7 linked regions of the Homo sapiens genome follow. Changing the gene in region 3 together with the main gene of any one other region gives a genetic interaction. Each region holds a gene or a part of one and is shown on either strand. Other genes may lie near its edges.

Region 1 (4,535 bases), on a different chromosome or scaffold from region 3:
CTCTTTCCCTCTACTTACTTCTCCTTGTTTGTCATCCTCTTCTAGCAATGGTAAGAAATGCGGGAATTGACCATCTTTACAGTATACTTTTTTCCTTAGAGTTCATAGAACATTTCCAGGTAAAACATTAGCTTTTATGTTATAATAGGTTTATTATAATGATATCATTTCCTTTTGAGGTGGTAGGCAAGAGACTAGAAGAACTTCATTTGTATAGCATTTAATATTATTTATTAAAAATGATTTTATAGGCCGGGCGCGGTGGCTCATGCCTGTAATCCCAGCACTTTGGGAGGCCGAGGCAGGTGGATCACCTGAGGTCAGGAGTTGGAGACCAGCCTGACCAACATGGAGAAACCTCATCTTTACTAAAAATACAAAATTAGTCGGGCATGGTGGCACATGCCTGTAATCGTAGCTACTTGGGAGGCTGAGGCAGGAGAATCACTTGAACCCGGGAGGCTGAGGCAGGAGAATCACTTGAACCCAGGAGGCGGAGGTTGCAGTGAGCCGAGATCTTGCCATTGCACTCCAGCCTGGACAACAAGAGTGAAACTCTGTCTCAAAAAACAAAACAAAACAAAAAAACAAAAACAAATTCTAACCTTCATGTGCCTCATTACTGTAATGTAAAAAAAAAAACTATGTTCATTGAAGAGAACTAACATATTAAACTAAAAATGAAGCACAGTGTTCTCCACTCATGGGAGTACTGTTAGCAGGTTTAAGACAGTTACTGTGAGAAGTTCACAAGGTGAAAGTGTCTTTGATAATTAGGGCCTAATCAATTGGGATTTGACTTACTCAATTTCTCCAACACATGGAATTGTACTGGTACCTGAAGGAGAAAAATATATAATAGAAGTTGTATTAGTTTTTATGTCTTGAGCTCTCTGAATAACTACTTGATTCATTCAGTTGCCAAATGTCAAAAGATTGTAATTTTGAGAAAGTTGATTCTTTACAATTAGAACTAAGCCAGGGTAAACAATTTGCTTTCTTTTTCTAAGTTTTAGGTTTTTCTTTCTCTCTTAGGAAGTTTAGTGAAACTCTAGGGGTTAGGCAGGTTGTAACTGAAATTCTTGAGGCCAAAAGGTCCTGTCTTATGCTTGGTAAACCGACCCCCTCAACAGCGTGAGAAATGTAGATGTACTGATAACCCTGATTGCTTCGTGACATAATTACAGACATCCAGCCCTCTATCAACTAAAATTCCGTTTATTTTTAAGGTTCAAATATTAGAAGTATCTGCTTGATACATCTCATAGGTTGTCAAGTGTGCATACGATGAGAGATATAATGTTACTTTTAATTTGTAAGTAAACAAACACACAATATTATGTTCTCAATGCTGAGTAAGCTGAAAAGATGTATACCTACTGAGGATGCACCAAATAATAAGCAACAGAAACCTGGTAATGTGCAATTAGGAATAGTTCCTCTTAATAATAATAAAAAAAAGATTAGTGTTTAGGTTTTAATGGCATAAAGATGTAATGAAAATAAAATTACCAAAGAAGTCTATTTTGGAGAAATTTTTGTCAGACTAGATAACAAAGAAAAGAACACATCCTTTTTTTATTTTTATTTTTTATTTTATTTTAGAGATGAGGTCTTGCTCTGTTGCCCAGGCTGGTGTTGAATTCCTAGGCTCAAGTGGTCCTCCTCCCTTGGCCTCCCAAAATGCTGGGATTACAGGTGTGAGCCACCAAACTTGGCCAGAACACATCCTCTATATGACTGTCTACAGAGGCTTAGAGTAGTACAGAAGTACCTGAAAGGAAATAATGATAAATAATGAAAATGTTTTAATAGGGATCATGTGTTCATTTCTACATGTATATCAGTATAGTACCTATCGTTTGCTGTTTCTGCTTGTAAATGCACGGTTGGAAAATAAGATACCCAACCTTTGGAAATTATTCAGGGAAGTGCATCTAAAGTTTAGAGAAAAGTTGGTTTCTTCATATTTTAATGACACTTTTCAGCACGTATAGTTCACCCTTGAACAGCACTGGGTTTGGGGCACAGACCCCCATCAAGATGAAAATCCACATGTAACTTTTATCTCCTCAAAAACTTAATTACTAATAAACTACTGTTGACTTCCAGCCTTACCGATGACATAGTCAACTAACACATTGTACCTTATATGTATTATATACTGTGTTCTCAAAGTAAGCTAGAGAAAAGAAAATGTTATTAAGAAAATCATAGGCCGGGCGCCGTGGCTCACGCCTGTAATCCCAGCACTTTGGGAGGCCAAGGTGGGCGGATCTTGAGGTCAAGAGATCGAGACCATCCTGGCCAACATGGTGAAACTCCATCTCTACTAAAAATACAAAAATTAGCTGGGCGTGGTTGCATGTGCCTGTAGTCTCAGCTATTCAGGAGGCTGAGGCAGGAGAATTGCTTGAACCTAGAAGGTGGAGGTTGCAGTGAGCCAAGGTTGTGTCACTGCCCTCCAGCCTGGCGACAGAGCGGGACTCCATCTCAGGAAAAAAAAAAAAAAAAAAAAAATCATAAGGAAGAGAGAATATATTTACTCTTCATTAAGTGGAAGTGGATCATCACAAAGGCCTTTATCCTCATTGTCTCCACATTGAGTAGGCTGAGAGGAGAAGGAAGCGGAGGAATTCGTCTTGTTGGTCTCAGCATGGTAGAGGTGGAAGGGGGAAGGGGAGGCGTGAGAGGCAGGCACACATGGTGTAACTTTATGGCAATACGTCATACTTCTGCCTTTTTTGCTTTTTCATTTCTCTGAAAACATTTCCATATGGTACCAATCCTTCTTCCACCGTTTGCTTTAGTTTCAGTGCCCATATCAGAGAAGGGTCCATGTCATGAAGGAGTCAAAAGCAGTCTTGAACAATCAGACAGTCTTCTGCCATATCGTCTGATGTCATTTTGTTTTCTTGCATTCCTTCTACATTACCTGGTACTGGATTGGAAGCACTTACCGAGTCATCTTTTTAAATTCCTCTTGTGTGATGTCTATTTCTTGAATTTCTCCAAGATTTGTATCTTGAAACCCTTTAACCCACCCCCCCCTTTTTTTTTTTTTGCCATATCCACAGTCTTTTTCGTGATTTCCTTGATTGGCCCTGTGGCAAATCCTGTGAAGTCATGCACAACATCTGGACACAGTCTTCTCCAGCAGGAATTTATTGTTTCAGGCTTGATGGCTTTCATGGCTTTTTCCATAACAACGACGGCTTCTTCAGTGGTGTAATCCTTCCAGACTTTCAGGATGGTTTCTTTATTGGCATTCTCTTTCATAGAGTTGACAGTACTTTCTGTAGTGTACTGTGTCCAGTGATCCTCGTGACCCCCTGATTTAGAAGCTGAATTAGAGACATTTTGTTTGGGGGCAAGTAGACTACTTCAGCACCTTTGGTGTTGAACTCATGGGGTTCCGGGTGGCCAGGGGTATTGTTCAATAATAAAAGAACTTACAGGCAAAATACTTCCTGACTTCAGGGACAAAGCATCAATGGAACCAATCCAGAAAAAGGGTTCTCATTGCCCAGGCTTTTTTTGTTCTATGACCAAAAGACTGGGAGCTGGTGTTTATCTTTTCCCTTCAAGGCTTGGGGGTTTGTAGCATTATAGATAAGGGCAGTTCTGATCATAAACCACACTGCATTTTCACCAAACAGTAGAGTTAGCCCATCCCTTCCTGCCTTTAATCCTGGTGCTTTTTCTCTTCCTTACTAATGAATGTTTTTTATGGCATTGTTTTCCAGAATAGGGCACTTTTGTCTATATTAAAAACTTGTTTAGGCGGATATTCTTTCTCCATATTTCTTTTTTTTTTAAGAGATAGGGTCTTGCTCAATTGCCCAGGCTGACATGCAAATGGCATGATCATAGCTCACCGCAGTCTCAAACTCCTGGACTTAGGCAGTCCTCCTGCCTCAGCCTCCCGAATAGCTGGGATGCAAGTGTGCACCACTATGCCTGGCTAATTTTTAAATATTTTTTATTTTTTTGTAGAGACAGGGTCTCACTGTGTTGCCCAGTCTGGTCTTAAACTCCTGGCCTTAGGTGATCCTCCCACCTGGGCCTTCCAGAGTGCTGGGGTTACAGGTGTGAGCCATTATGCCTTCCCCCAGCTAATTAAAAAAATGTTTTTTGTAGAGGCAGGGTCTCGCTGTATTGCCCAGGCCCAGGCTGATCTTGAACTCCTGGCCTCAAACGATCCTCCTGCCTCATCTTCCCAAAGTGCTGGGATTACAGGGATGAGCCACTGCACCTGGCCTCCTCAGTGATTTTCTTTCTTTCTTTCTTTTTTTTTTTTTTTTTTCGAGACTGAGTCTCGCTTTGTCACCCAGGCTGGAGTGCAGTGGCGCGATCTCGGCTCACTGCAACCTCCGCCTTCCGAGTTCAAGTGATTCTTCTGCCTCAGCCTCCTGAGTAGCTGGGACTACAGGTGTACACCACCACGCCTGGCTAATTTTTGTATTTTTTGTAGAGACGGGGTTTCACCATATCGGCCAGGCTGGTCTCGAACTCCTGACCTTGTGATCTGCCCA
Region 2 (4,535 bases), on a different chromosome or scaffold from region 3:
TAAATCTGAAGAAAGGGTCTATGAGTTTCCTCATCTCCAATGGACTATCTTATGCACTCCCCATCTTGTATCCACATGCTGGAGGCTATGGACCCAGGGCACTTGTTTTTACATCAGTTATTTTGACAATGTACTCCTTATTGAAATGTTTCATCATCCACAACAAAACTACAAGTGGTTAAGGGCAGAGGCCCATCCTCTGTTTCTCTTGAATCCATGACCGCCTAAATTTGAAAGCTGTGGTGGGCAGGATCACTGATGGTTAAGGTAGGGTTCTCAAGCTCAGCACTGCTGACATTTCGGCCAGGTAATTCCTTGTTGTGCAGGGCTGTCCTGTACGCTGTAGAGTGTGTGGCAACATCCCTGGCCTCTACCCACTGGAAGCCAATACAGCAACCCCCTCAGTTATGGCAATCATAAAAGTCTCCAGGCATTGCCAAATAGTCTCTGGAAGGTAATGCTGCTCAGTGAAGAGTCATTACAGCAGGGTATAGCACAGAGGACAACAGCTTTCTAATGAAGGCTTCGTTGAAGCCTTAAATGTTGAGTAAGAGAGAGCCCAGAAAAGGAGAGCTGGCAGGTGGGCATGACTATGAAAGCATCTGACAAGGAACAGCACTGTGAATAGGAAAGCACTGAAGTGCAGAGTCAATGGTGAGCTGTCCAGGCCTGGAGAGCTGAGGCCAGGTGTGATGCTGGGATGAGCCTCAGTGGAAAGAAAAGCTGCCTGAGTGTGCTACCAGCTGCCCCTCTCTTCTCTCTGTTCCCTATTGCTCATATGTCTGCATTTAAGGAATAAAACTCATTTATTCTTTTCCTCTGAATTCTAAGCAATTATCTCAATGTTACCCTGGGCACCATGGACTTGATTTTCTGTGGTGTGAATTCTACTGTTTACTGCTTCCAGTGTAAAGATTTATTTTGCTAATTGCATTTAAGTTTCTTTGCAATTCATCTTTTCATTTGATCCTATTCCTCTGCATGTTCTCTGCTAAATGTATGCTTCTCTTTCTTAGAAGCCTGGTCTTTTATATACCAGTGAGAAGGCCAGGTAACCTCCTGCAGCGGATCATTTTCAGAGGTTTGCTTCTGAGAAAGAAACAAATGCAAGAGAAGCAATACTCAAAAATAAATAAAACTGTTCATGAGTTAACGAAGGACACTTATGCAGAATGAAAAGGAAAACCATTTTACAGTCAAAATCAATGAAAATATTCATATCTAAATACATCCTAGCATAAAATGTACTACTACAAAACTTCTGTGTGACAATAAATGCTACAAAACAATGAATAATGACCACATGATTTTTGAGGTAATGTTGTGTCTCCAGGTAATCTGCCCTTTATACACAAAGGCTTTATAAAAATATTTAAGATATGATAGGGCTCACACCTTCCTAAGAAATTAGTGACATAGATACATCGACAGCTCAAGAATGAAGCAAAAACAGGCCAGAGTGGAATGGAGACACTCTCACAAAAAAGGACATACATGTCACTCAAGGACATGGGTAATTACTGGAAAGTATAATGGAGAAACATATAAACTTTGTTTCTTTAAATAAAGTTGACCTAGATGCACATATGGAAGCATGTTAATGAGGTAATGTTAAGTGGAAGATCACTGTGTATCATATGAGCACATTTATGTTTTTGTGTTTGTGTGTGTGGTATGGATACTATAAAGAAATACATATATTTGTTCTTATACAAAAAGACTTTTTTTGGAAGGAAACTTGAGCAACTGTTGATACTGGTTACCTCAGGGAATTGGAGAGGGTTAAGAATTTAACAAAAAAGACTTTTATTTTTACCCCATAGCCTCTGTATCATATGAATGTTTTTCATGAACATGATTTTTTAAAAAAATAAATGGGTCTAAGCTACCAATTTCTCAATTCTTAATAATCTAAAAAAACAAAACTTTAAAAGACCTCTACTTACCTTATAATATAACCCACAAGGTGGTCAGTGTGCGGCAGTACAAACAAAGACTTTCCTGAGAGTTCACATGCATTGCATAAAGCTGCAGCCCTTTCTGAAGCAATGACATCTTCTCCTGTTGATAATCCCCATCAAGATGAATGAGAAATAAAATAACTAATGTAGCTTCCCAAATAAATATTTCCCCAAGTCTGAAAAAATAGAATTAGGAATAAAAACCCAAACAGCTTTTCATCACACCAACAGGACTCCTGGGCTCCTTGAGAGCTCTGTGTGGTTCTTAGAGGTTACACAGTATATGCCTTTTAGGAAAACACTGTGGAATTTTCTACTGAGCCAGGATAGGTGGCCAAGTAATGCCAACAGATATACCACATAACTATTTCAAAAAACATAACTAAAACTGGAAGCAATAATTCATGAAAGAAGTCTCCAAAACCATTTTGGATGCTATAAGTTTCAACACAGAAACAAAAATATATTTTGGTCTACAAAAGTCTGGGAAAGTGGAAATAAGAATCTGAAACTAAGACATTTTCCAAGAGAAAACTACAAATCCTATAGCCTTTTTCTTTGCCCTACAGAAAATTAATGAAAAAATTTCATATAAGGAATACAGCTTCAAATAGATCTTAGATAAGTAAATTATATTCTTTTTTGGAAAGCTTTGGAAGTCAAAAAAAATTATACTCTTGTAAAAAAATTCAAGCGAATTGTTTTGTGAATTGAACATGCCTTCCTATATCCCCTACATAAGAAGACAAGTGGAACAGGGGAACTAGGGGAACTTGAGATTTGCATTCTTCACTATCTTTAATTTTTTACAATAAGCATTTGTTCATGTATCATTGGTGCTTTTTAAAGTTAACATACTATCAGCCCCATAACTGAATGCATAAAAGATTTAAACATCCAAAAAACCCCTATCTCCCTTTAATAAGAATTGGAGGTATAAAACAATTAATTCATTAATTAGACTTCTGATACCTGGGGGCAAAGGGGTTTTCTTCTGAATCAGAACCACTGCAACTTTTGTGTTTCTTCCTTGTAAACTTTGCCTGCAATGAAAAAGCAAGAATAAAATTAATTATTTTAACTTAAAAAATGTATTCATGACTTCACATAAAATACAACCTTGGTCATTCAACCGAAGATAAATTTCAACTAAAAAAACCAAGATCAGAAGAAATCTTTTCCTGCACACAAAGCACATATATGTCACAATGATTTAAATTCTAAAAGTATGATCTCACATCTTCTAATCTTAAAAATCTTCCTTAAAAGCAAAAGATTAATGTATACTTTTACGTAAAAGTTATAATGCAACTTACTTCTTTATGGTGATACACTGCAGAGTAGTCATCCAAAAGAATTAATTATTTGAAACTTAAACAGTGATAAAGCAAAGCGTTTTAAGAGACTAAACAGTAAATTACTATGTCTCCAAAAAAGATAATACAAGAAAAACATTTGGAAATTCAGACCAATTAGTCTTCTAAATTTCTTCACGTACCCAGCATTATATACAGTCAATAATTATGCTACCTGTGAGGAAGTGAACAAGATTCACTGGAGGTCAATCCGCAAAGTGACCACTGCAGTCTGAACGGTACTCCATTGCCTTCAAGGAATGTTAGTGAATAACACACATGTGCAAACTGACATAGCTGCCCTGACACAGAAGATCATACCTGACTATTTCCACTCTGGTGGCGCACTCAGACTGCTTTTCTTTCCACTGAGGCTCATCCCAGTCCAGTTCATAGAACACAACCACCAGGGCTGGCACCAGATTCAGATGCTTATTCATCCAGCCAGTCTTTAAGATCCCTTTAGGAATGTACCACTCATATGAAGTTCTCTGCAAACATTGGCAGAAATTGAAAAGTTACCTGACAGGAGCAGAAACCACCTGTTACTGAGTGCCAAGCACTTTATGTGCATTGATCTCATTCAATATACACACCTCCCATTTTTGATTAGGAAACTCAGGCTTACAGATTCAGTAAGAACTAGTAAGTGTTGAAGGTGGAATCTCAACCCTGGAGAAGCTATACTTCCCATTTAAAGAATGACTGAAGCCAAAGAGTTTCTATCAGCCCCATAACTGAATGCATAAAACGATGATGCATGTCTAATGATGTCAAGGGTCTCAAATACTTTGCTAAAGAAAAAAAAAAAAAAAAAAGTAGCCCATTTCCAGGTAAATTCTACTTATATTCTTCACCATTCCAGCTTCTGTTCTTGTAAAACTGCTCAAATAAAATATTATCTAAAATCCAATAGGCTTTGTTTATTTCAAAGACATATTGCTGTGATGCATTTCACCTCACTTGTAGATGAAGTACAAAGCAGAGAACAATTCTTAAACAGAAGCTTCACAGCAGCCACTTGAGTCTGGGCACTGAGTGCCACAGAGTGGGAAGAGGATGCTGTAGATTTGAGTGTTAGCCCTGAGGGATGCAGTTGAAACCTCACATTCCTTCCAAATCAGCTGTGCTGGCTCAGACTACTCCACTTCATGGTGATCCAATGTCTACCTCCAGCAAGGAAAGATGAGGTCAATAAGGAAGTCTGACACAAAATAAC
Region 3 (4,535 bases):
AAGCCTTTTCTATGAAGCCACACTACTTTTCTTCTCAACTTGCCAAGCCCAAGAGGACCTAGAAGTCTTTCGTTCAGAGAAGCTTAGCTTTCTCCTTTCACTCTGCACCTGGGAGGGGAGAGGGTCATTTTTTTTCTCCTAGCAGTCATTGTCTTTATTTTGAATTTAAAAAAAAGGCAGGCGGTGTGCAGTGGCTGTCATGTGTAATGCCAGCACTTTGGGAGGCCAAGGTGGGAGGATCACTTGAGGCCAGGAATTTGAGACCAGCCTGGGCAACATAGCAAGACCTCATCTCTACAAAAAATACAAAAATTATCCAAGCATGGTGGCACGTGCCTGTAGTCCTAGCTACCTAGAAGGCTGAGGTGGGCAGATCCCTTGAACCCAGGAGTTCGAGACTGCAGTGAGCTATGATTGCACCACTGCACTCCAGCCTTGGTGACAGAGAGAGACTCTGTCTCGAAAAAAACAAAACAAGAAAGAAAGAAAGAGGCCAGGTGTGGTGGCACATACCTGTAATGCCAGCACCTTGGGAGGCTGAGGATGGAGGATCCCTTGAGCCCAGGAGTTCAAGATCAGCCTGGGCAACATAGGGAGACATTGTCTTTATTAAAAAACAAAAAACAAAAAACAAACAAACAAACAAACAAAGCAAGAAAAAAGCAAGCAGGCAAGCAAGCAAAAGCTAACAAAAGGCAGCTTGTCTCTGTTTTTAAAACCATGTAAGACTCATTACTAAAACATTGGTTTCCTTTGCTGTGTTGCCCAACTAGTAAATTCTAGCAGTAAACTTTTTCAAGGACTTCCTTGGCCACAAAATCTGTCAATTTGATGGAAAAAATTCTGTTATTATCTTAACCTGCATATGCTGAAGTTGTGCTGTGTTTTATTCTGAAAAACAAAGTGTTGTTTTCTCTTGACCTAAGAGCACCTAAGGTCACGGTTGATTGCATGAACAATTGATTCCTGAGTGAGGCATTGGCAGTTACTACCACAGTGGCTTCATTTCTCTCAGACAGAGGATCGATAAATTCAGAGTTTAAAAAATCCTTCTTCTTCAATGTGGATTAAGTACTACAGAAATATCAAACAAAGTCCCAAATGCTGAAGGAGGGCCCAGCAATCCTTCTCAGACAGACTACTGCAGTTTGACATGTTAACATAAAACTCTAGAAGGTGGCCAGGCGCGGTGGCTCACCCCTGTAATCCCAGCACTTTGGGAGGCCAAGGCAGGCAGATCACCTGAGGTCAGGAGTTTAAGACCAGCCTGGCCAACGTGGTGAAACCCTGTCTCTACAAAAATACAAAAATTAGCTGGGCATGATGGCGGGTGCCTGTAATTCCAGCTACTCAGGAGGCTGAGGCAGGAGAATCACTTGAACTGGGAAGGAGGAGGTTGCAGTAAGCTGAGATCGCGCAACTGCACTCTAGCCTGAACGACAGGGCGAGACTCTGTCTCAAAAACAAACAAACAAATAAACAAACAAACACTCCAAAGGACTTCTCCTCTAACTCCAAGAAGCACCTAGGAAGAGCCTTTTCACAAGCCCTTTGTCTTTGAGAGACATCTACCTCTGGGTTGCTACTTTCATTAGAGGAGCATGAGCCCTCTTCTTGATTCTTCAGCCTTTTGTTTTAAACCTATTAGCGTCAATTTTCCACCTTTTTAAAAATCTGTTTGCCACTTCTTTTAAGAACTAGCTCTAAAATTCACTTCTGCCAAGACTTCCATGATTAATTTCTTTCTACTGATAAGTCTCTTCAGCTCATACATATATTCCATTGGTACCATAACTAATGTTGTTCTCTATTCTAATTTTGTTAATGTTTCTAGACTGTAAGTCCCTCGAAGACAGGGGAATTTCTAGAAAGCCGAAAAGGAATTTAGAGACTGTCTAGTTGTATCCTTTGTTCATTTTATTGATGAAGAAACTGAGGCCTAGGGAGGGTAATCAGTCCAAGTCAGTTAGCCAAGTTAGAAAAACTAGGTGTAGAGCCCAGGTGTCCTGACTTTGAGCAGTGTGCTTTCCACTATATTAGGTAATCTTTTTTCTATTTCACTTGGATTTCTTCAGAATGCCTTGTAAAGTGCCACATACACACACGTCTCTCTGTAAATGTCAATACAATAAGCATAAGAGTTTACATAACTGAGAAACTGACTCAAGGAAAGAGTCAGAAAACAGAAAGGTCATTTTCTTACTTCTTTGCATGATGCCACCCTCCAGACCAGTTAATTGCTACTTTGCACATTCCGTCAATCAGGCATTGGGCAGCTGTGATCGTAGCCCCTCCTATAGCTGCTGCATAGTCAAATATCCCTTCAGTGGCTGGGCAGTCATAACCTTAGGGCAAAAATCAGAAGAGCTGGTTAAAAGGTGAACTGGAAAAAGAGGAGGAATAGGTTGAGGTGTGACAACAACCTAACCTACTAAAAAGCCACTGTGCTAATATCAGCTCCAACTGAGACAGAAACAACTCCAATGTTGGGGATATAATATTTTAAAAGGTTAGAGCTAGAAAGGATAAACCCTCCTGATGAACTAGTCACAGGCTACAGATAGAGAAACCAAGCCTGAGAGGTGATGTGTCTTGTCAGTGGTCACACAGAGCCAGGCTTGGGACCCAGCTCTGTTGACCCCCCAGTTCAATGTTCCTCTGCTAAACCATGCTGTTTTTCTAGACTATCCTGCAGGTCACTTACAGTTTTAAAAAATGCAGCTGTTTAATGAGGGGTGAGGTACAAAAACTTAGCCAGAACATAAATCTGTACTCCAGTTAAAATATAAGGTCACAGGACAGCTAAATCAGCATATACACAGCCAGACCAGATCTGAGCACTGCCAGTAGGGCATAAGCAACTGAAAGGTTTTCTTTCATCTAACCCTTCATGTGGTTTTGCTCAACTCATATGGTTTGCTTGTTTAGTGAGTTATATGTGGCTAAACCAAAAGATTAAGATTGACAGTTAACACATGATTTCTTAACGAAAAATATTAAAAAAATCATACAAGTTATAAAAAAAATTAGTCTGTCCATCTCCCATCACTGCCTGGTAATGACTTTACCTAGCCCATATTCTATGGAGTCCGGATGATCATCATCGCCCTCTTGGCTGACCTTCTGGAGATGCTGCAGATAAGCATCAGTGTGGAAGGTGGCCATCTCCTCCATGGAGGCCACTTTAGGCTTAACTATCCTAATAATAACAGAGAGAACAAAGAGAGGTCAGTGAGTCAGACCCAGCGTATGCCAGAAGCTAGAAACAGAAGCCAGCAGTCTGAGAAGAAAATACGTCTCAACTTCTGGTTCCAATAGGCTGGAGTAATAAACATATTCTGTTCTTCCACTGCACTGTGCGGTCTTCACTGCCTCACATCTACAGTAGTGACTCTATTAATAAGGGGCAAGAAGATAGATTTTCCCTTGAGTTTATAGGTAAGTAAACAAAAGTAATTATATTCAAGTTAAACAAATAATCAGGTATCAGACAGACTTTACCCTGTGAGTTACAACTTTCAGGACAAACTAGTAGGCAGGGATATTTTCATTTGAACCAGTTGCGAATTGGGCTATCTAATCCTTTCAGCTATATCTTTATTTTAATAGGCAGCTATGTTATCATGCATTTTGAATTTGGAGTCAGATTTGGAGTCAGAGAATTGGGTTCCTGTCCTAATTCTGTACTTACTAGCTCTATAACCTCAGATAAGTCAACTGTTCTGTAGTTCAGTTTTCTTATTTGTAAAATGGGGAACTTTATGGGACTTATGTGAAGATAAAAGGATAACACATACAAAAATGCTTGGTGGATAACTATCATTCTATTAACAGATAAAAAATGGGCAACCCAAAATGTAATGTTTCTAGACTTGGACCCTCCTATCTGCCTCTGAGAGCGAGGCGAGAAGGGGCAAAATGGTTGGAACCGGACTTCACTCAGAACCTCTCAACCTACTCCTCACGAAAAATGACAAATAGAAGCGAGTGAGGGAATAAAGGGAGCTAACCCAATAAGAGGCCTTACCACATCTAACCTCTAGCTGCCTATTCCCCATTTCCTCTTCTTGACCCCACAGCTGCCACTACTGTTCTCTAGCCCTTGCCACTTAAAGGGTGGTCCATAGACCAGGAGCATCAGCATTCCCTGGGTGCTTGTTAGAAATGCAGAACTTCAGACTTGCCTCAGACCTGAGTCAGAATTTGTATTTTAACATGATGATTTTTAAACAAGATGACACATTTTAAGGTGATTCATATACACATTCAAGTTGAAGGAGCCCTGACCTGGGCCACAGGGAGGCAGCAGTGGTTTTAAATGTCTGCTGAATGGGAACACAGCCATGAGTTTACGATGAATGAATACGACTATACAGGCTACTACTATCACCAAGGTAGCTGGAAGAAATCCTGTGGTTTGGCCTCAAAAGTGAAATACATAGCCAAGACCCAAGAATTCTTGCTTCTTCTTAAAGAAGACAAATCTATACCACCAGAGGTGAAAAATCTACCCATTAAAATAAAAATTTTGTAAT
Region 4 (4,535 bases), on a different chromosome or scaffold from region 3:
CTCTCCATCTAAAGTAGTCCTCCCCACCCCTACAATTACTTTGAAGCTCATCACCCTATTTATTTCCTGGATAGCACTTATTAAAATTATATTCTTCATTTGTTTACTTGTTTACTCATTGTCTCTATGTAAGTTCTTTGAGGGCGGGTACCTTGTCTTTCCTGTCACTTCTATATCGCCAGCATCTACAACAGCTCTTAACATACTGAAAGCATTCAATCAACATCTGTTGTGTAAAAGGACAAAGCAACTGAATTATTAACTATATGCATACTTAGGTTATAGTGACAAATGGTAACAGATGTTGACAACTGATAAATGTGCATTTTGTTCAAGGAATATAATTTTGAGCTTTGTGTGGGAATGAATTATGTAAATTAGAAAGGTTTCCTGCTGTGTACTGATCATATACAGTATATTCTTCCGGTGGCCTGTGGTTTCCCTTTGGTAATAAATAATTCCTTGTTCAGTAATTCTTATAAAAATTCATAAGCAAATAAATGTTTTTATTTATCACATTAATGCAAAAGCTCAAGAATAGTTGTTTTTTAAAAAGCCTCTCAGATAGGTGCATAACTTTGGGCTGGCGTTCATTCTTCCCACTTAGCTGACATTTCTGAATCTTGATCCCAAGGTCTTTAAACATTTTATCTGAATGAGTGTACTCTCTGAATTTAACACCAAATGTTCTGCATCTCAACCTTGGACTTTTAAAAGATGATTTTTTTTTCTGTTCTGTACCAAATTACAGAAAAAAATTTTTTAAAGGACAAAGTGAAAAAATACACTTTATCACATAAAAGAATCACCTATGTATCTCAAAACATTTTTCTCATTCAGAATCTCATTATGTTTATAAAACACTATACTTCCAAGGCTCTTAGATGTTTATTAACTGAAATAATAGAAGAATTATGTCAACAGTAAAATTTTCACATTAATCTATCCAATAGGATTCAAGTATATATGTTAGCCCCTTAGATAACATGTGTTCCAACAAAAAAAATATATAATTTTTAACTAGGTAGAATTTATGTATACAGTATTTAAAATTTCAGGTTGGCCTAAATAAGTTGTTCTGGACAAGTTTTGTTTTTATTAAAAATTAACCACTGGATTAAGATGACAATTATTGCTTCCTTTAGTTAATACTCAAAAAGAAAGCCATCCTTTGCTCCTGTGTAACAAATGGCCTTTATTAATTAGGTCTCTCAGTTTGTGTGCTGGCAACATTTGGCAAAGTCCAGTCCTCACCAAAAATAGTAACAACCTGCTCTGGATGGCAATCAAGCAGCAAGCCTATTTTTGGCCTCAATGTTTGAAACACCAAATGCCAGATGCCATCGAACAGAACCTTAAATGGCATAAGTAAACTGGTCTGATACTGAAATACAGAAGGATTTGAGGCTCTCCAAAACACTTGTTTCTTTAGTACAAAAGAAATAAATGTTTCAGACTTAGCAGGGGAATTCATATCTAATGCTGACATATGTAAAACCAAAAGAATCTTAACAGAAGAAAGGAGCAGCAGAATGCTATAACCTCAGCTTTAGTCCTTAACATTACTCTAAATTTTCTGTTTGTTCAGTATTTCTGGCTTTTATTATTAATATCTTTGTTAGCTTACCTGTCTCTGAGTGTGCTGGGGCCTAAATAAGGATATAGGTTTTCCTTAAGCCTTCCTTTGATGAGATGATCCAGGGTTTCATGTAGGAAAGGTTGATGCTGTGTATATACATTTTCTACTCCCTAAAACAGGGGAAAATGGTTCTTATGTCATTTTTGGGAAATTGGCAACACAAGAATTAATAATATTCATATCAGAAAAGGACATACACTCAATAGAGATTTCATGGGATAGATTTACGTAACTGTGGGAAATTTAAAAATTATTTTAATCAGCTAGAAATGTTCTAATCTCATAAAAATTACTCTGTAATTTAGGGCTAGTTATTGTAAAGGATTTTTTAAAAATGGAATTGCTTAAATCCTTAATCATGTCTTCACTGTCTCTCACCCTTTTGTGAAATGTTAAATGATAGGTAGAGCAAATAAAAGGAAAGGATTATGTATAAAAAAGACTGAAAATACCCAGGAAAATAGAAAAACTTCAGGAAACATAAGAAAGGCTGCCGGGCGCGGTGGCTCACGCCTGTAATCCCAGCACTTTGGGAGGCCGAGGCGGGCAGATCACAAGGTCAGGAGTTCGAGACCATCCTGGCTAACACGGTGAAACCCCATCTCTACTAAAAATACAAAAAAAAATTAGCCGGGTGTAGGTGGTGTATGCCTGTAGTCCCAGCTACTCGAGAGGCTGAGGCAGGAGAATGGCGTAAAACCCGGGAGGCAGAGCTTGCAGTGAGCCGAGATCACGCCACTGCACTCCAGCCTGGGAGACAGAGCGAGACTCCGTCTCAAAAAAAAAAAAAAAAAAAAAAGAAAGGCTAGCAGATTAGAATTAATTTTTGAGTATTTTAAGAAAACAGGTTAGTATTTTTAAAAGATCAAAAGTTTGCTTCATCTTTAATTTCCTTCAAAGAGAAACTACCTAAAAAATCTTTAATTATAAACAAATGGTGTAAAATATCTGTGACTAACAGAACTGTTGGTCTTTTTCTTCTTATTTCCTGGAAATACCTCCAGTTATTTCCTGCTAAGCTATTTGGTCCAATGTTGATACGGCTCTAAGACAGAAAGCACTAAAAGAAAAAGCTTTCAAGAGGATGCCAGTTTTAATTTCATTTAACTGACACAGTACTAAATTAGCAGCAATCTTCAAGATACTTTGAAGATCATATTCATTCACTCTCAGCCTCAAGGACTTCAACTGTTCTCACTCAGGAGAGCATAGAGGAGATGTCTATACCTTCAGTCCTTTGAGGAATTGTTTGGTGATAGCCACAGCATCTTTGGGGCTGAAGAGGTCACTTCCTCTGACTCGTTTACCACCATATTCAACAACTGCAGACACGAGCTATTAAGAAAGAGAAGCAAATTTTGATTGCTTAGGCATCAGGAAGCCCATTTCATAAGAAAATAATTTTATTAAGGAAACAAAAATGAAAAGACAGAATTATACATTTCTGTAAATAAAAATAGTATGATTTATCATTCGTTAGAGCTAAGAATATAATAACAGAGTTGGTTCCTGTTTGGTGGGCTAATATGGAAACTGGTTACCTTTCGATACTTCTCAGAAACACCTTTATTCCTGAGGTCCATCATTAGTCCTGGCAGGCTATTGCTGCTGTGTCGCTCATAATGTAAAGCATAAAGCATCACCAGGCGGGCAGCATCAAACTCTGTCACTTTGGGGTTCTGCAGAAGCCTTTTTATATTCTGAAGAAAGATAGAACTTATATTTATCCCCCTTTCACTTGAGTCATCTGTTGTACAATGCCTTAGATCTAATAATTATTGAATGGTAGTGATACATCACTACTATGACAATTATAAGTCATACATTTAGCAACTGTCTCAACTATAGAAAATTAAATGCCTTTTGTCCAAGGTAAGAATTAAATAAGGAAATATATTTCCATTGTAATTGCTTTAGGACAAAAATGAATTTAATAATGGATAGTTCCACTTTTCTTTTCCAATAGCTGAAGTTGTAATTTCCTTGCTGAAAGAACACTTACTATTTCCACGACTTGAATCAATACGGCACAACAAAACTGACTAGTTGATTTGCAAAACCTACTGCTTTCTCTTAGTATTAATGATTGACCAGTGAAATGGAGACAAGTTGGTAGAATTTTACACAGACTGGGCTTGATCTCTAAGAAGCATCAGAACATGTCTCAACATGGTTGACAGAGATGAGTATGTAATAGCATGTAATCTCTAGATTTAGTACTTAATGATTTTAAGAGGCAGGTACCGATAGGAAAGGGGGCCAGGAGAAGCCATGTTTACATTTTTTAATCCTCATATTCAGGACCTTCCATATAGTATAGATTTATATTTATTATGCAGCAGAACAAATAATTTAATTCAAGTCAACAAATACTTTTGAGTCCCCATAAGGCAGTATGTCATGCACTGTTGCAGGCACACAGATAAGTTAAAGACAATTCCTGTCCCCAGTGAGTTCACAGTCAATGGGGTGAAGGATGATCAAAGTAATATAATTTATTCTGCTATATACATGTTTCTTTAATGTACTTTAGTTCTGTGAGATGGATAAATATGGAAATGGTGTCAGTTTAACACAGAAGGCATATTGGTTCACATGTAATTTTTCCAGAATGGATAGGCTTTCTTATGATTAAAGGGGAAGCCTTACCAATACCTTAAGAAAAAAAGATGATAATCCTACAGAAGTGTGTTCTGCAAGAAGTATCTGGTTTTGTAGCTTCAAGAACTGTTGCACTTTCCACTGTGTTATGCTATATGGGGAAAGGGCAAGTGCAAATAAAAAGGATGCAAATATATTGCACTGTGTAAAAAAGCAAAACAAAACAAAATAACAATCAAACACTGATTGATGAAGAAAGCTGTCTCCATATGGTATTTTTAATTTTGACAAAGTA
Region 5 (4,535 bases), on a different chromosome or scaffold from region 3:
CTTTTCTTCATAGCAGTTATCACCATCTGACATGCAATATATTGTTCATTTAGTATCTTTTCTCACCCAGTGGGATATGAGCTACATGACATACAAGACTTTGTCCCTGGTACAGCACATAGTAAGCAGCCAATAAATATTGAACTAACATAAGGCTGTGGTATAATGTAGAACATTAAGTTAATCATGTAATTTTAAAACTGTTAGTTTTAGTTTTAGAATAGTTTCTTTGATTATACTTTACAGTGCTATGGTAGAGAGAAAAAAAAGCTTTTTAATTTAATAATTTATTTTACTACTTCCCTCAGTAATCTTAAGCTGCCAAAAGATAGTTTTCTTTCTTTCTTGGTGCTTTAAAGGCTTAGAAAAAGGCAGGATTAAACAAATGTAACTAAGTGTTTAAGTAGTATTTTTGAAAGGTTAAAACAAGATTCCACAGTTCACCTATATGTTTGCCTTCTACCACCCATAATCGACAATAACTACTTAGACCTTCTTTTTTGTGATACACTGACCCATTGCTGCCTCCTGATGCTTGTGAATATAGTGCAAGCAAACATGCATATATACCTTATCAAGTGAGTTTGCAGTTCATATGAAATCCAATCAGTACTCTTTCATGCACTGGAAGTAAGTCTCATCCTCTCCTCATCCCAGTCCCCTCCACCCTCCACCCTTGATAGATGATTGATCTCTGTTCTAATAATCTGTTCAAGTTTCTTTTTTTTTTTTTTTTTTTTTTGAGACGGAGTCTTGCACTGTCGCCTGGGCCTGGAGTGCAGTGGCGTGATCTCGGCTCACTGCAACCTCCACCTCCTGGGTTCAAGCAATTCTCCTGCCTCAGCCTTCCGACTAGCTGGGATTACAGGCGCCTGCCACTACGCCCAGCAAATTTTTTGTATTTTTAGTAGAGACAGGGTTTCACCATGTTGACCAGGCTGGTCTCAAACTCCTGACCTCATGATTTGCCTGCCTTGGTCTCCCAAAGTGCTGGGATTACAGGCGTGAGCCACCACGCCCGGCCATAATCTGTTCAAGTTTCTTAGTTGTAGTTGCCTCCATTTCTTTATAAAATGAAGCCATTCAACATTTTAAGTATAAGGTTTAGTGCAATGAGATAGGGCAAGTTCTTAGGTTAAAAGTTAATGTTCAAATATAACATCTATTTTTTCTTTCCTGCAGCAAACCAAGAGGAAGCTAGATGATGCCAGCAAACGTTTGGAGTTTCTGTATGATAAACTTAGGGAACAGACAGTAAGTTTTGGAGGAAAAGGATTTATGATAATCATTTATTCCTAGTTGCTAGTAAAACAGTTGTCTTATCAGCACTCCCATTTAGTATGCATGGGGGCAAAATTGTCATGACATTTAGAGAATGGGCATGGCTGTGTTGAATCATAAATTCCACTCACTGGGGTTAAGGGGATACGGGTGTGTGTGTGTGTGTTTGTGTGGGTGTGTTGAGAGAGACATTTTAACCCTCTCATAACAAGAGTATAAATACAAACTGGCCTGTGTTGGCCATAAGGTAGCTGACCTTCTGCTGTTCCTTTTATATGGCCCAGTTACAAGAAATCAAAGAGTATGCAGATACTCTGTTTTCCAGGGACTAAATCTATAATCTTTATCATAGTCTAAGACTCTTGACCCTTTTCTTTTAGGATAGCCATTATACAAAAGCAAAGCCAAATGTAGCCACAAGATGAATAGGGTAATGTGCTGTAACTATGAAGATAGCCAGGAGTAAGAAGTCAGTTCACTACGTTTGTTCTCTTGTCCCCACCTCACCATTCTTTTCTAAAATTGTCTTGTTTTATTAATGAAAGCACTAGGAAAGGAGAAGAAAAAAAGAAGTGGGACTTTCTTTTTATTTTTTCCATTTCAGCATTCCTCTAACCCATTCCCCACACTCAGTTCCATCAGATGAAAATAACCATTTCTCTCATGAGAACCAAACTAAAGAAAGTTGATATAACAGTGGAAGTAGTGTGGTCCTTGGACTGATCCAAAATAAAGTCTTCTCGGTGGGCACAGTGGGATATGCCTGTAATCCCAGCTACTGAGGAGGCTGATGCGGGAGGATCACTGGAGCCCAGGAGTTTGAGACCAGCCTGGGCAACATAGCAAGACCGCATTTCCAAAAAAAAAAAAAAAAAACAGAAGATACAATTAGCGTATACATCTAGATGAGTATATATTAAAACATTTTTTAAAAATGAGATCAAAATAGGCCAGGCATGGTGGCTCACGCCTGTAATCCCAGCACTTTGGGAGGCTGAGGCGGGCAGATCACCTGAGGTCAGGAGTTTGAGACCAGCCTGGCCAACATGGCAAAACCCCGTCTCTACTAAAAATACAAAAATTAGCTGGGCATGGTGGCACACGGCTGTAGTCCTAGCTACTCAGGAGGCTGAGGCAGGAGAATCGCTTGAACCCGGGAGGCGGAGGTTGCAGTGAGTCGAGATCGCACCACTGTACTCCAGCCTGGGTGACAGAGTGAGACTCCATCTCAAAAAAAAAAAATCCAAATAAAGTCTTCTGTAAAGTATGGACACCTATGCCAAGTAATGACATAGTAAAAAACTACAGGTTTTATAGTTTTAAGAGATGACAGGATTATAAAAAGCAGGTAAGAATTAGTAAATTTGGGCCCTTCCTTTGAGATATTATGATTAAGAATCTTTAATCTCCTTTTTGTGCATAGGAGAATTTTTTAAAGGTCTGAAGCTCTCTTAAGTGGAGAGAGAAATTAGCATTTCAGTTTGGAGAGGAAATCGGGCTGCTTTTCTGTAAGAAAATACCTGGCTTATACATGTATAATTCATAAATAACTTATTTATGTAAATCATTTTGTTGTGGTTGTACTTGATAACTGTTGCTTGGTTCAAGAAACTTTCTAGAAATGCTAAATGGTTTATATATTTTTATAATGTTTGTTTCAAATTCCACTTAAATATCTGGGTTTAATGTTTATGGAGGATCTCATGGGAAGTTATCCCTTAATTTAATTCTTTCTCTTGGTTCACTTTTGTTTCAGCTTTCACCAACAATCACCAGTGGTTTACACAACATTGCAAGGAGCATTGAAACTCGAAACTACTCAGAAGGATTGACCATGCATACCCACATAGTTAGCACCAGCAACTTCAGTGAGACCTCTGCTTTCATGCCAGTTCTCAAAGTTGTTCTCACCCAGGCCAATAAGCTGGGTGTCTAAAAGGACAGCTTCTCTTCCACTCAATATTGCCATTTTTCCAAAGAAACATGTTAAAAAAAAAAATTATAAGACATGGACTAGTCCTCATTAGCATGTTTGCATAGCAACCAGTCAAGAGCATTTACACTATTTCTGCTGATATACTCACCTTAGAACTGCTCAGAACCCTGGTGCTTTATTTTTGTTTTAATCTTTTGTTGCCAGTGATGATTTTCCTATTCTGCAAATAGTGTATTTCCTGGATTACACATAGTATGGTTTCCTGAAGTATTCTGATAAATGTGTTTTTTAAAACCTCAATATACTTTTTAGAAAAGGAGCATCTGGTTATGCATAAAGCAGAGCTAAAACTAAATTTCTTTCATGTCCTCCCTACTTCCTCAGTGTCAATCAGATTAAAGTGTGTAATCCTATTTTATGTGTGTATAGTCTTTTTTGAAACAGCTGCTTAAAATTTAGTTTATTTTTTGTGTCTTAGGATTCCTGAGTAAATAACTACATCTACAAACTGCTACATGGGTTTTAGCAGATATTAATAAAAATGGGATCACTGGCTTTAACTATATAGGAAAAGACTGGACATTTTTGTTCTGTAGAATGCATTGAGCTTTTTTCTATTTGTAAATGTTTCAATATTCTGTTTGAGTTTTAAGACTAAATTGTGTCCATTTTATAGCTAGAAATTTTTTCACCTATTTTGTTTAAATTACCTATAGCTGTGCCAGGCATGGTGGCTCACGCTTGTAATCCCAGCACTTTGAGAGGCCGAAGCAGGCAGAGGTCGGGAGTTCGAGACCAGACTGGCCAACATGGAGAAACCCTGTCTCTACTAAAAGTACAGAATTAGCCGGGCGTGGTGGCGCATGCCTATAATCCCAGCTACTTGGGTGGCTGAGGCAGGAGAATTGCTTGAACCCGGGAGGCGGAGGTTGCGGTGAGCCGAGATCACGCCATTGCTGTCCAGTCTGGGCAATAAGAGCAAAACTCTTTCTCAAAAAAAAAAAAAAAAATTACCTGTAGCTTTGAGGTTTAAGTTCAGAAAGAAAGCTTTAATTTCAGTCAGCCTGTAAATCAAAGCCACACATTTTGCACCCAGTTTTTCTGTCAAGTGACTTTATTATCATCTGTCTTAAGAACAGTGTGGTAAGGCCGGGCGCGGTGGCTCACGCCTGTAATCCCAGCACTTTCAGAGGCCAAGGCAGGCGGATGACCTGAGGTCAGGAGTTCAAGACCAGCCTGACCAACATGGAGGAACCCCATCTCTACTAAAAATACAAAATTAGCCAGCCAGACGTGGTGGCACATGCCTGTAATCCCA
Region 6 (4,535 bases), on a different chromosome or scaffold from region 3:
CCAGCTAGTAAAAATCAAAGACTTTGAACCCTACTACTGGGCTCTTCATATAGTGATCCTGCTGCATATTGGCCAATTAGAGTAAAAATCAGATAGGGAGACTACCTGTCAACAAAGTAAAAGATATAGTCCAGAGACAAATAACATTTGTATCAGTTTTTCTTTTTCCAAAGTCTTCATAAAACCACCCTTTGGAATAAACTGAAAAATGCTGCATTTTTGCAAAATAGGAATTTGAAAAGAAAAAAAAACAAACAAAAAAAAGCCTTTGTCTTCTGCCTCTTTTACGGCTTATTGCTTGTATCCCAACTAGCAATGAATCTGGCGAATGAACACAGAATGGCAAGACGTATTTCTGTAAATCTCCAGGAGGTTTAAACACAGCTGCTGGAATTAGAGTCCAAAATAGGAAAAGGTGCATCTTGGTGGTCATAAGGAAATGAGGAACCTCAATTTACAAAACTACTTTACTAGCTTAGGTTCCCTAAAGCCCTGAAAGGTTGCCTGAAATACACAAAATTCTTAAAGCAAATCTCAAAAGCAAATCATCAAATCAATAACAAAATTAACATAAAACTTCACTACAAAGATATCCGTGTTTTCCTAAGCTTTGCAAAAAATTCCACTGAAATAAAAAACTCTATATATCTAAATATTAACTTTTCTATTCCTATCTATAAATGAGTTGAGAAAGTAGCATCTGCAATAAGATATCCAAAAATAATCAATTTTACTAAATACTATATAAACAGTATAATGTTATAGTTATCAAGTTGACTATATTATTCAGTTTTTTAAATTTATGTTACCGTAATATTTTTCTATTTAAAAAATTTTAATTTTTAAATCTATTTTTATTTCTACTTATTTATTTTTAATTTTATTTTTTGAGACAAGGTCTCACTCTGTCACTCAGGCTGAAGTGCAGTGGCAAGAACAGCTCACTGTAGCCTTGACCTCCTGGGCTCAAGCGATCTACTCGCCTCAGTCTCACGAGTAGCTGGGACTACAGGTGCATGCCACCACACCTGGCTAATTTTGTTTATTTTTCGTAGAGACAGGGTCTTGCCATGTTGCTCAGCTGGTCTTGAACTCTTGGGCTCAAGCGATCCCCCCACCTCAGTCTCCTAAAGTGCTGTGATTACAGGAGTGAGCCACTGTGCCTGGCAGGTTATTTTTCAAGGACTAAGAAAATGTGGCTAGTCATCTAGTTTTGTTTAGTCAAAGGGACAATATCAGAGAAACCTAACAGCAATTACATTTAAATATTAGTCTGCTGAGTAACAATCAAGAATTGCTAAGCACCCAGGTACTTTAAAATCTCATTTCCAATGATAATCCTCTGTATAATTAATCTATTCAAAATGCAAAATGAAAGCCACTTATAGAAATTACTTTTGCCCAGGAAAATTGTGAAACCAAATGTACCTAGGATAAGTGAAATAAAGTTCTGCAACTTACTCCATAATCTTTCTGCTGCTTCTGGATACACTTCCAAACTGGGAGATGTCAGAGTAATTGAGCAGTGTGGCCCGCAAATAACTAATTATTTTTAAAAATTTGAAATTGATAGCACCCTCATGAGAAACTAGAAAACAAAGTATCGATTCCCATACCCTTCCCCATATCTAATGTAAAAAGACTACTTACTTACCTCATGCGCTAACATTTTATAGAGTTCTTCTCTAGTTACAGAAATCCTCTCTCTGTCTGTACTGTCCACAACAACTATTACAAACTAAAATAATTACAAAAAAATTATTAGTGATTATACAATTTGGTATCTGTAAAATTTATAATGTGTTTATTTGACATACAGGCTATTAATATCAAGAAATTGGAATCTTATGGTATTGTTGGAAAATCAGAGCTACCTATACATTGTGAAGCCAAAAGGTCTGATCGATTTTAATATATTTACTAATTTTTAAGAGAAAAGAGAATATGATATTAACATTCTAACTAATATATATAACGCATGTCTGTTTTCTAAACTAGTATCTTGAATGCTAATGGACCTATATCTATCTATTTGCACTACAAATCAACAAGAAAAACATGCAATATGATCCTGAATTTATTACTTCCAGGTAGATATTATTTATTAATATCAATCTGAACACCTAAAAGGGCACGGGTATGGGAGTAAAGTAATGTGACAAGATAAAGAAATCAATTAAAAAAAAATTCAACCAACTGAAAGAATAAATCTCTATCTAAAAACAAGCTCTCTTCCTTACATAAGTATCGCCTGCTACCTGCAAGCACAACCCCTTCATAAACTGATGATGAGACTGGTATCAGAAGGTGCGATGAAAGACTTGTGATTGTTGTGCAGGACTGAGCTCCACCCCAGCTCTTCCTCAACTCCGTGAGCACCCAAAAGCAAGAGATCAGCAGGAACAGATGGAGATTTAACTTACTTACTTTATGATAACATTTATGATGCCCAAGTTGGTTCTGACTGCCTATTAGTAACATGCACTATTTATTTTTGGGACCTAGATCTTAATTTTTAAATAAATTATTATGATTTTCTGGATCTTTTCAATTATTCAGACTTCATCAACCAAAAGGCAGATGTATGAGAGAACTGCTACTTTACCTCTCCTCTCACTTGACAGCTTACTGATAGGTGGCTTTATCACTGTAAGGCCCATTTTATTCCAAGGTATTTTAATAAAACTGTTAATTTTCAGGCTGTTGGCATGAATTTGAAACCTATAGCATATGTATACAGTAGCATATATACCTTTATAATCATACATAACTTCCCTTATTAAAAAATGATTAAATGCCTAATGCAGTGTTAGGAAATCAAGTTGTCAGATACACTTAATGGTTTCTTAATGACTTAAAAGTCAGCTTTATATACTTATAAACCATGCTTTATTAACTTGTAATAATGAACACTACAAAAACAACGGTCAGTCTTTTAATTCACAGGTCTATGCAATGAAGCACTCAAATGTCAAAGGTCTGAAATTTCCTTTGGGAAATAATGTGTAAATAAAAAGATATGACTATGTCTAAAATGCCTTATAATCAAAAGAAAAACAATTATTTAATGTGCAATTGTGTTTTGTAAAAGAAAATAGTAAAACTGGCTAGGATTCAAACCATCAAAACCCTCTCATTTGGTGAGCTAAACTCAGTCAAACATAAATAGAGAGAAATGAAATTATAAACTATGAGATGGAAGTCATTAAAAAAAACTATTAAAGACAAGTTCTGAGATCAATACACAATCAGAACATAATTAACCACCAATTCTCCCTATAGAGGTTCAATGATAGTGGACATATTGAACAATGACCTTGGAATAGGAAATCAGATTTTACTCTGCTTAAACTCTCTATGTATTAACATACTGTGATATTTCAAAAAGATTAACTATAAGGACTCAAATCTAGATGTTTTCCAAGCATTCTGTTTATAGAATTTTAAATATTGTAAGAAACATTACCTCTGTGTTAGTATAGTAAGTGTTCCAGGAAGAACGAAGAGATTCTTGGCCACCAATATCCCACATTAGGAAACGTGTATTATTAATCACTATCTCTTCTACATTACTTCCTATTGTAGGAGATGTATGTACAACTTCATTCATAGAACTGGGGAAAAAAGTTTATATACATTACAATTAGCAAGGAAGCTAACTTGCTTGAACAATTTTTTAATCAAGGACAAATCAGCATGACCTCCTTTTATAATTTATACCTAAATATCTTTTTCCCACTAGTTTACAACATGAGTGAGGGTTTAAACAGGGCTGGAACTAGGTCGTAGGCTATCTGGCATATACTAGGTCATTCCAGGAAACTTTATAGTTTCTACTTTATAGTTTTCTACTTTCTTTTTTTTAATGTTACCCAGGCCGGAGTGTAGTGGTGTGATCATACATAATCAGTGGCATGAGGTTCACTGCAGCCTTGACCTCCTGAATAGGATCAAGCAATCTTCCCACCTCAGTCTCCTGAGTAGCTGGAACTACAGGTGTGCACCACTACATCCAGCTAATTTTAAAATATATATATATTCATATATATCTTATAAAGAGATGGCATCTCACTATGTGACCCAAGCGGTTTCTCAAAGTCCTGGCTTTAAGCGATCCTCCCACCTCTGCCACCCAAAGTGTTGGGATAAAGGCATGAGGCACCGCACCCGGCCATATTTTTCTACTTTCTACAAACAAAAGAGCTTTAGCACAAAACAAGTGGACAACTCAATGCCAACTATATGCTCAATATCATATAAATTTCTTGCTTTCTACTAACTATTGCTGAGATCTGGCTCCAGGTTTATAGCCAACCTGCTTTCTTACAGGGTAACTTAGGTTTCATGTAATTTCTTACTGCATTCATTGATCGACTATCACCCAGGCCAAAAAAGTAACTAGAAATAAAATAATTTTTAAAATAGTTAATACTTACAATTGGTAAAGAATGGTAGTTTTCCCTGCATTATCCAGCCCAACAATGATAACTTTGTGCTCTGAAATAGAGAAAACACCAGTGATTTTTTTTCAAAAA
Region 7 (4,535 bases), on a different chromosome or scaffold from region 3:
CCTGCCACCATGTCCGGCTAATTTTTGTATTTTTAGTAGGCACAGGGTTTCACCATATTGGCCAGGCTGGTCTTGAACTCCTGTCCTCAGGTGGTACTCCCGCCTCAGCCTCCCAAATTGCTGGGATTAACAGGCGTGAACCACCATGCTCCCAGCCAGAATGTCCCTCTTTTTAAAGGCTGAATAATATTTAATTTTATGTGTATTCAGGTAAGAATATTTTCTATAGTGATAGCTTCAGACCTTTCTTTTAGTCACAGATTGCTTTTTAAAAATCATATCATACCAGAAGCCCAAAACTTAATACAAATAAACACAGAGGGTTGATTTAGAACACAGTTGAAAAGTAGGATAATATTTTGCAAGGACTCACCCCTCATGTTAGCATTCATGCCTCCACCCGCAGATCCGTGGCTGTGACCATGCCCATGGTCACTGTGTCCATGCATATGGTGTGAATGGCTGTGATCAGATGAGTGACAGCTTCCTTGAGAAGCTCCATGGGCATGGCTATGGGCATGGCTAAAGGCACAGATACCAATAAGGTTTACTATCAGCCCTCCAACTGAGACTGGCTAGCAAAAGGGAGAAAAAAAACCTTTAAATTAGTAATTTAAAAATAGACTTGTTATTTAAAAGTTATTATATAGCTATATATGTTTTTCTGTTTACAGTTTTGAAAGTATTCACAGTAAAACCTTACTAAGTTTCAGTAAGTCCAAAATTTTAAAAATGTGAATTTTAGAACATTTTAGAAGAAACATTTTAACTTTCAAATATCAAGCAGAATTGGTAAGTAGAGGAATTTGGACTTATTTCAATTAAGAATGGTATGTACTTGGTTTATGGTTTATGTATAAATAAATGATGCAAAGTTTTGTTTTGTTTATTGAAGAGTTTGAAAGTACTGCTTACTAGGGCAAGTATACACTGTACCTGAAATCTTTATATTGCTAGGTAAATTTGAACAGTTTATATGCCAACAATTATAATTTATTAATGAGCAGATTCCAAATATGGTCTTATTATGTCTTAAACACAGTAAAATTTTCCAAAGTAAAACAAGTATAATAAAAAGGAAACATACAATAGTAATCTCGCATTTATTTAAATTAAAAACAAATTTTTTTCTTTGGTAGAGACAGGGTCTATGTTGCCCAGGCTGTCCTCAAACTCCTGGGCTCAAGCGATCTTCTCACCTTGGCCTCCAAAAGTGTTGGGATTATGGGATTACAGGCATGAGCCACTATGCCTGGCCTCTCATTTTTTTCTTAACAAAGTGAATGAAATTACTTTAATTTAATGGTGCCACAATAATACTCCAAAGGATAAACAAAGTTACTTATCCTTGATTATCTGCTCTTACAAAATGATCTTGAATAGTAGTAGCTCAGGGTGTTAATTTGCCTACATCTACAATTTAAAGCAATCCATTTGTTTTATAAAAGGAAAATATAAATATGAGAAGGACAAATACTTTTAATTACTTTTCAAAAGTAGTAAGAGATTTACTTTATTAAATGTGTAGGGAGGTTATTTACTTCTTCCTGATTCGGACCATTTGACTCCAGATTTTAAAATTTCATTAGGCTTTATAAGCTGGTAGATGGTTAATGACTTTGAATGAAACCAAGTACTGCTTACAGAGACTCCATCATCTCATAAGTACTCCTTCTCCCCTACTGAAAAATACTTCATCATTGTGTATTTTATCAGGAAAATAAAAATGTAGAAGATGAAAGTCCCCTATAATTCTACCACCAAGGGTTAGTCACGCTTAAAATGGTGTATTTTCCATCTGTGTACTAACATACATACACATAACACCCTTTAAAACCAACAATGTAATCATAATACTATTTTACAATTTTTTTTTTTTCATTTTGAGACAGAGTTTTGCTCTGTCAACCAGGCTGGAGTGCAGTGGCATGATCTCGGCTTATTGCAACCTCTGCCTCCCAGGTTCAAGCAATTCTCCTACCTCAGCCACCCAAGCAGCTGGGATTACAGGCGCCCGCCACCATGCATGGCCTGCAATTTGTTTTTCACTAGTACATCTCGTAAATATTTTCAGGCCAGTATATACAGATATATCTCATTCTTTTCAATAGCTCTGTAATATTCTATTATATAGATAACAAATTTATTTAATTACTTTTTTCACTGGTGGACAGTGAATTGTTTCCATTTTTTCACTATTATAAATAAGGGTACAATGAATCATGTACTACTTTTTTTTTTTTTTTTTTTTGAGGCAGAGTCTCTCTATCACCCAGGCTGGAGTACAGTTGGTGCAACCTGGGCTCACTGAAGCCTCTGCCTCGTGGTTGAAGTGATTCTCCTGCCTCAGCCTCCCAACTAGCTGGGATTACAGGTGTGCGCCATCATGCCCGGCTAATTTTTGTATTTTTAGTAGAGATGGGGTTTCACTATGTTGACCAGACTGGTCTCAAACTCCTGACCTCAGGTGATCCAACCACCTCGGCCTCCCAAAGTGCTGGGATTACAGGCGTGAGCCACTGCACCCGGCCAGAGTCATGTACTTCTATATGTTTGTGTGAATGTTTATGTATGATAAATAGTCAATATCAAAGGATACAGGCACTAAAAAATCCAAAAAAGTCTATTTTTCCAAACTGTATTATAGAAACATTTTACTCATGTATGCTTCCACCAGCAAGAGCCAGAGCTGCTTTTTGTCATTTAACAACTGATTTCCTACGACAAGCCAGGTGCTAGAACTGAACTTAAGAGTTAATAATATGTAATTCAGGTCCTGAAGATACTTACATATCTTAATTGTGGAAGAATGACAAATTAAACAACTGCAACTCAATGTTGCTAAAAGAAGAATGCACAAAACATAATGAGAATACTGAGAAAAGGAATCTAACAAACTTTGTGGAGAGAAGAGGGGGATTAAAAGAAAGTATTTCCAAAAATTAGGCAGGCGTGGTGGCAGGCGCCTGTAGTCCCAGCTACTCGGGAAGCTGAGACAGGAGAATTGCTTGAAAAAAAAGAAAAAAAGAAAAGAAAAAAAGTATTTCACATAAGCAAAATCTTGATGGAGGCTGAAGGGCAGAAGTAAGGAAAGGACATGCCAACTACAAGAAACAGCACATGTAAAGCTTTGGTGGTACAGGGAGAACATTAAAAGTTGCTATAGCTGGCCGGGCACAGTGGCTCATGCCTGTAATCCCAGCACTTTGGGATGCCAAGGTGGGAGGATTGCTTGAGGTCAGTAGTTCGAGACCAGCCTGGCCAACATGGCGAAACTCTATCTATACAAAATATACAAAATTTAGCAGGGGGTGGTGGCACATGCCTGTAATCCCAGCTACTCAGGAGGCTGAGGCACGAGAATCGCTTGAGCCTGAGAGGTGGAGGCTGCAGTGAGCTGAGATCATGCCACTGCACTCCAGCCTGGAAAACAGAGACTCTGTCTCAAAAAAAAAAAAAAAAAAAAAGAGAATTTCTAAGAGGGAGCAGTATAAATGTAAACAGCAAGATAGGAAGTTATGTTGATATAAGTAAAAAATAAAACCTTCTTAGAGCAATAACTGCAAACAATTAAACTTTAGGATAGAAAAAACTATGTAAGTATGACTAGAAATCCAAATAGGAAAATAAAAAGACTTACTGTTAACATGTGAGTGTCTAATTCTGGAGGATCAATCAATCTAGCCACTGACTCCATAAACACAAAAAACGCTATTACTATTAGAAAAAGTCCATTAATAAATCCAGACAGAATTTCTATTCGGCCGTACCTAAAAACATAGAACATTTTTCAGAAAAGGAAAAGGACAAATATTTTTAAAGTATAAACTTTATAAATGAGGAAACAAGTCCAAATTTTCATACTACTAAGTAATTAATAATAGAAAATTAGCAATATTTTAAATATCATATTAATGCCTGGAAGGTCCTTCATATATATATACATATATATATATACACATATATATACACGTTATATATGAATATATATACGTTATATATGAATATATAACATTTTAACGAATATATACATTTGTTAAAATGTTATATATTCATCAAAGTCCTTCTTTACTCTCTTTTTTTTTTTTTTTTGAGACAGAGTCTTGCTCTGTCACCCAGGCTGGAGTGCAGTGGCACGATCTTGGCTCACTGAAAGCTCCGCCTCCTGGGTTCACACCATTCTCCTGCTTCAGCCTCCCGAGTAGCTGGGACTACAGGTGCCTGCCACTACGCCCGGCTAATTTTTTTTGTATTTTTAGTAGAGACGGGGTTTCACCGTGTTAGCCAGGATGGTCTCGATCTCCTGACCCTGTGATCCGCCCGCCTCGGCCTCCCAAAGTGCTGGGATTACAGGCGTGAGCCACCGCACCTGGCCCTGTCTTTTTTTTTTTTGAGACATAGTCTCACTCTGTTGCCCAGGCTGGAGTGCAGTGGCACGATCTTGGCTCACTGCAACCTCTGCCTTCTGGGTTCAAGCGATTCTCCTGCCTCAACCTCCCGAGTAGCTGGGGCTACAGGTGCGTGCCACCATACCC

The links.
Region 1: changes in HDAC8 (region 3) and FUT8 together harm fitness less than expected from each alone (positive genetic interaction), as found in Homo sapiens cells (one large-scale study listed by BioGRID).
Region 2: changes in HDAC8 (region 3) and TRAPPC11 together harm fitness more than expected from each alone (negative genetic interaction), as found in Homo sapiens cells (one large-scale study listed by BioGRID).
Region 4: changes in HDAC8 (region 3) and VPS45 together harm fitness more than expected from each alone (negative genetic interaction), as found in Homo sapiens cells (one large-scale study listed by BioGRID).
Region 5: changes in HDAC8 (region 3) and SEC31A together harm fitness less than expected from each alone (positive genetic interaction), as found in Homo sapiens cells (one large-scale study listed by BioGRID).
Region 6: changes in HDAC8 (region 3) and ARL5A together harm fitness less than expected from each alone (positive genetic interaction), as found in Homo sapiens cells (one large-scale study listed by BioGRID).
Region 7: changes in HDAC8 (region 3) and SLC30A5 together harm fitness more than expected from each alone (negative genetic interaction), as found in Homo sapiens cells (one large-scale study listed by BioGRID).

The regions. Positions count from the first base shown.
Region 1 is NC_000014.9:65,418,697-65,423,231, forward strand, and holds part of FUT8 (alpha-(1,6)-fucosyltransferase), read left to right. Parts: intron 1-4,535. UniProt on the Homo sapiens protein: Catalyzes the addition of fucose in alpha 1-6 linkage to the first GlcNAc residue, next to the peptide chains in N-glycans.
Region 2 is NC_000004.12:183,665,529-183,670,063, reverse strand, and holds part of TRAPPC11 (trafficking protein particle complex subunit 11), read right to left. Parts: intron 3,808-4,535; coding exon 3,638-3,807; intron 3,005-3,637; coding exon 2,934-3,004; intron 2,062-2,933; coding exon 1,947-2,061; intron 1-1,946. UniProt on the Homo sapiens protein: Involved in endoplasmic reticulum to Golgi apparatus trafficking at a very early stage.
Region 3 is NC_000023.11:72,565,686-72,570,220, forward strand, and holds part of HDAC8 (histone deacetylase 8), read right to left. Parts: intron 3,200-4,535; coding exon 3,069-3,199; intron 2,346-3,068; coding exon 2,204-2,345; coding exon of another isoform or gene 2,200-2,203; exon of another isoform or gene 2,112-2,199; coding exon of another isoform or gene 2,072-2,111; exon of another isoform or gene 1,897-2,071; intron 1-1,896. UniProt on the Homo sapiens protein: Histone deacetylase that catalyzes the deacetylation of lysine residues on the N-terminal part of the core histones (H2A, H2B, H3 and H4).
Region 4 is NC_000001.11:150,090,741-150,095,275, reverse strand, and holds part of VPS45 (vacuolar protein sorting-associated protein 45), read right to left. Parts: intron 3,340-4,535; coding exon 3,181-3,339; intron 2,975-3,180; coding exon 2,867-2,974; intron 1,750-2,866; coding exon 1,628-1,749; intron 1-1,627. UniProt on the Homo sapiens protein: May play a role in vesicle-mediated protein trafficking from the Golgi stack through the trans-Golgi network.
Region 5 is NC_000004.12:82,817,756-82,822,290, reverse strand, and holds the end of SEC31A (protein transport protein Sec31A), read left to right. Parts: intron 1-1,182; coding exon 1,183-1,254; intron 1,255-3,037; coding exon 3,038-3,217; 3' UTR 3,218-3,782; downstream 3,783-4,535. UniProt on the Homo sapiens protein: Component of the coat protein complex II (COPII) which promotes the formation of transport vesicles from the endoplasmic reticulum (ER).
Region 6 is NC_000002.12:151,810,703-151,815,237, forward strand, and holds part of ARL5A (ADP-ribosylation factor-like protein 5A), read right to left. Parts: intron 4,498-4,535; coding exon 4,437-4,497; intron 3,615-4,436; coding exon 3,467-3,614; intron 1,739-3,466; coding exon 1,655-1,738; intron 1-1,654. UniProt on the Homo sapiens protein: Lacks ADP-ribosylation enhancing activity.
Region 7 is NC_000005.10:69,117,734-69,122,268, reverse strand, and holds part of SLC30A5 (proton-coupled zinc antiporter SLC30A5), read right to left. Parts: intron 3,771-4,535; coding exon 3,641-3,770; intron 576-3,640; coding exon 374-575; intron 1-373. UniProt on the Homo sapiens protein: Together with SLC30A6 forms a functional proton-coupled zinc ion antiporter mediating zinc entry into the lumen of organelles along the secretory pathway.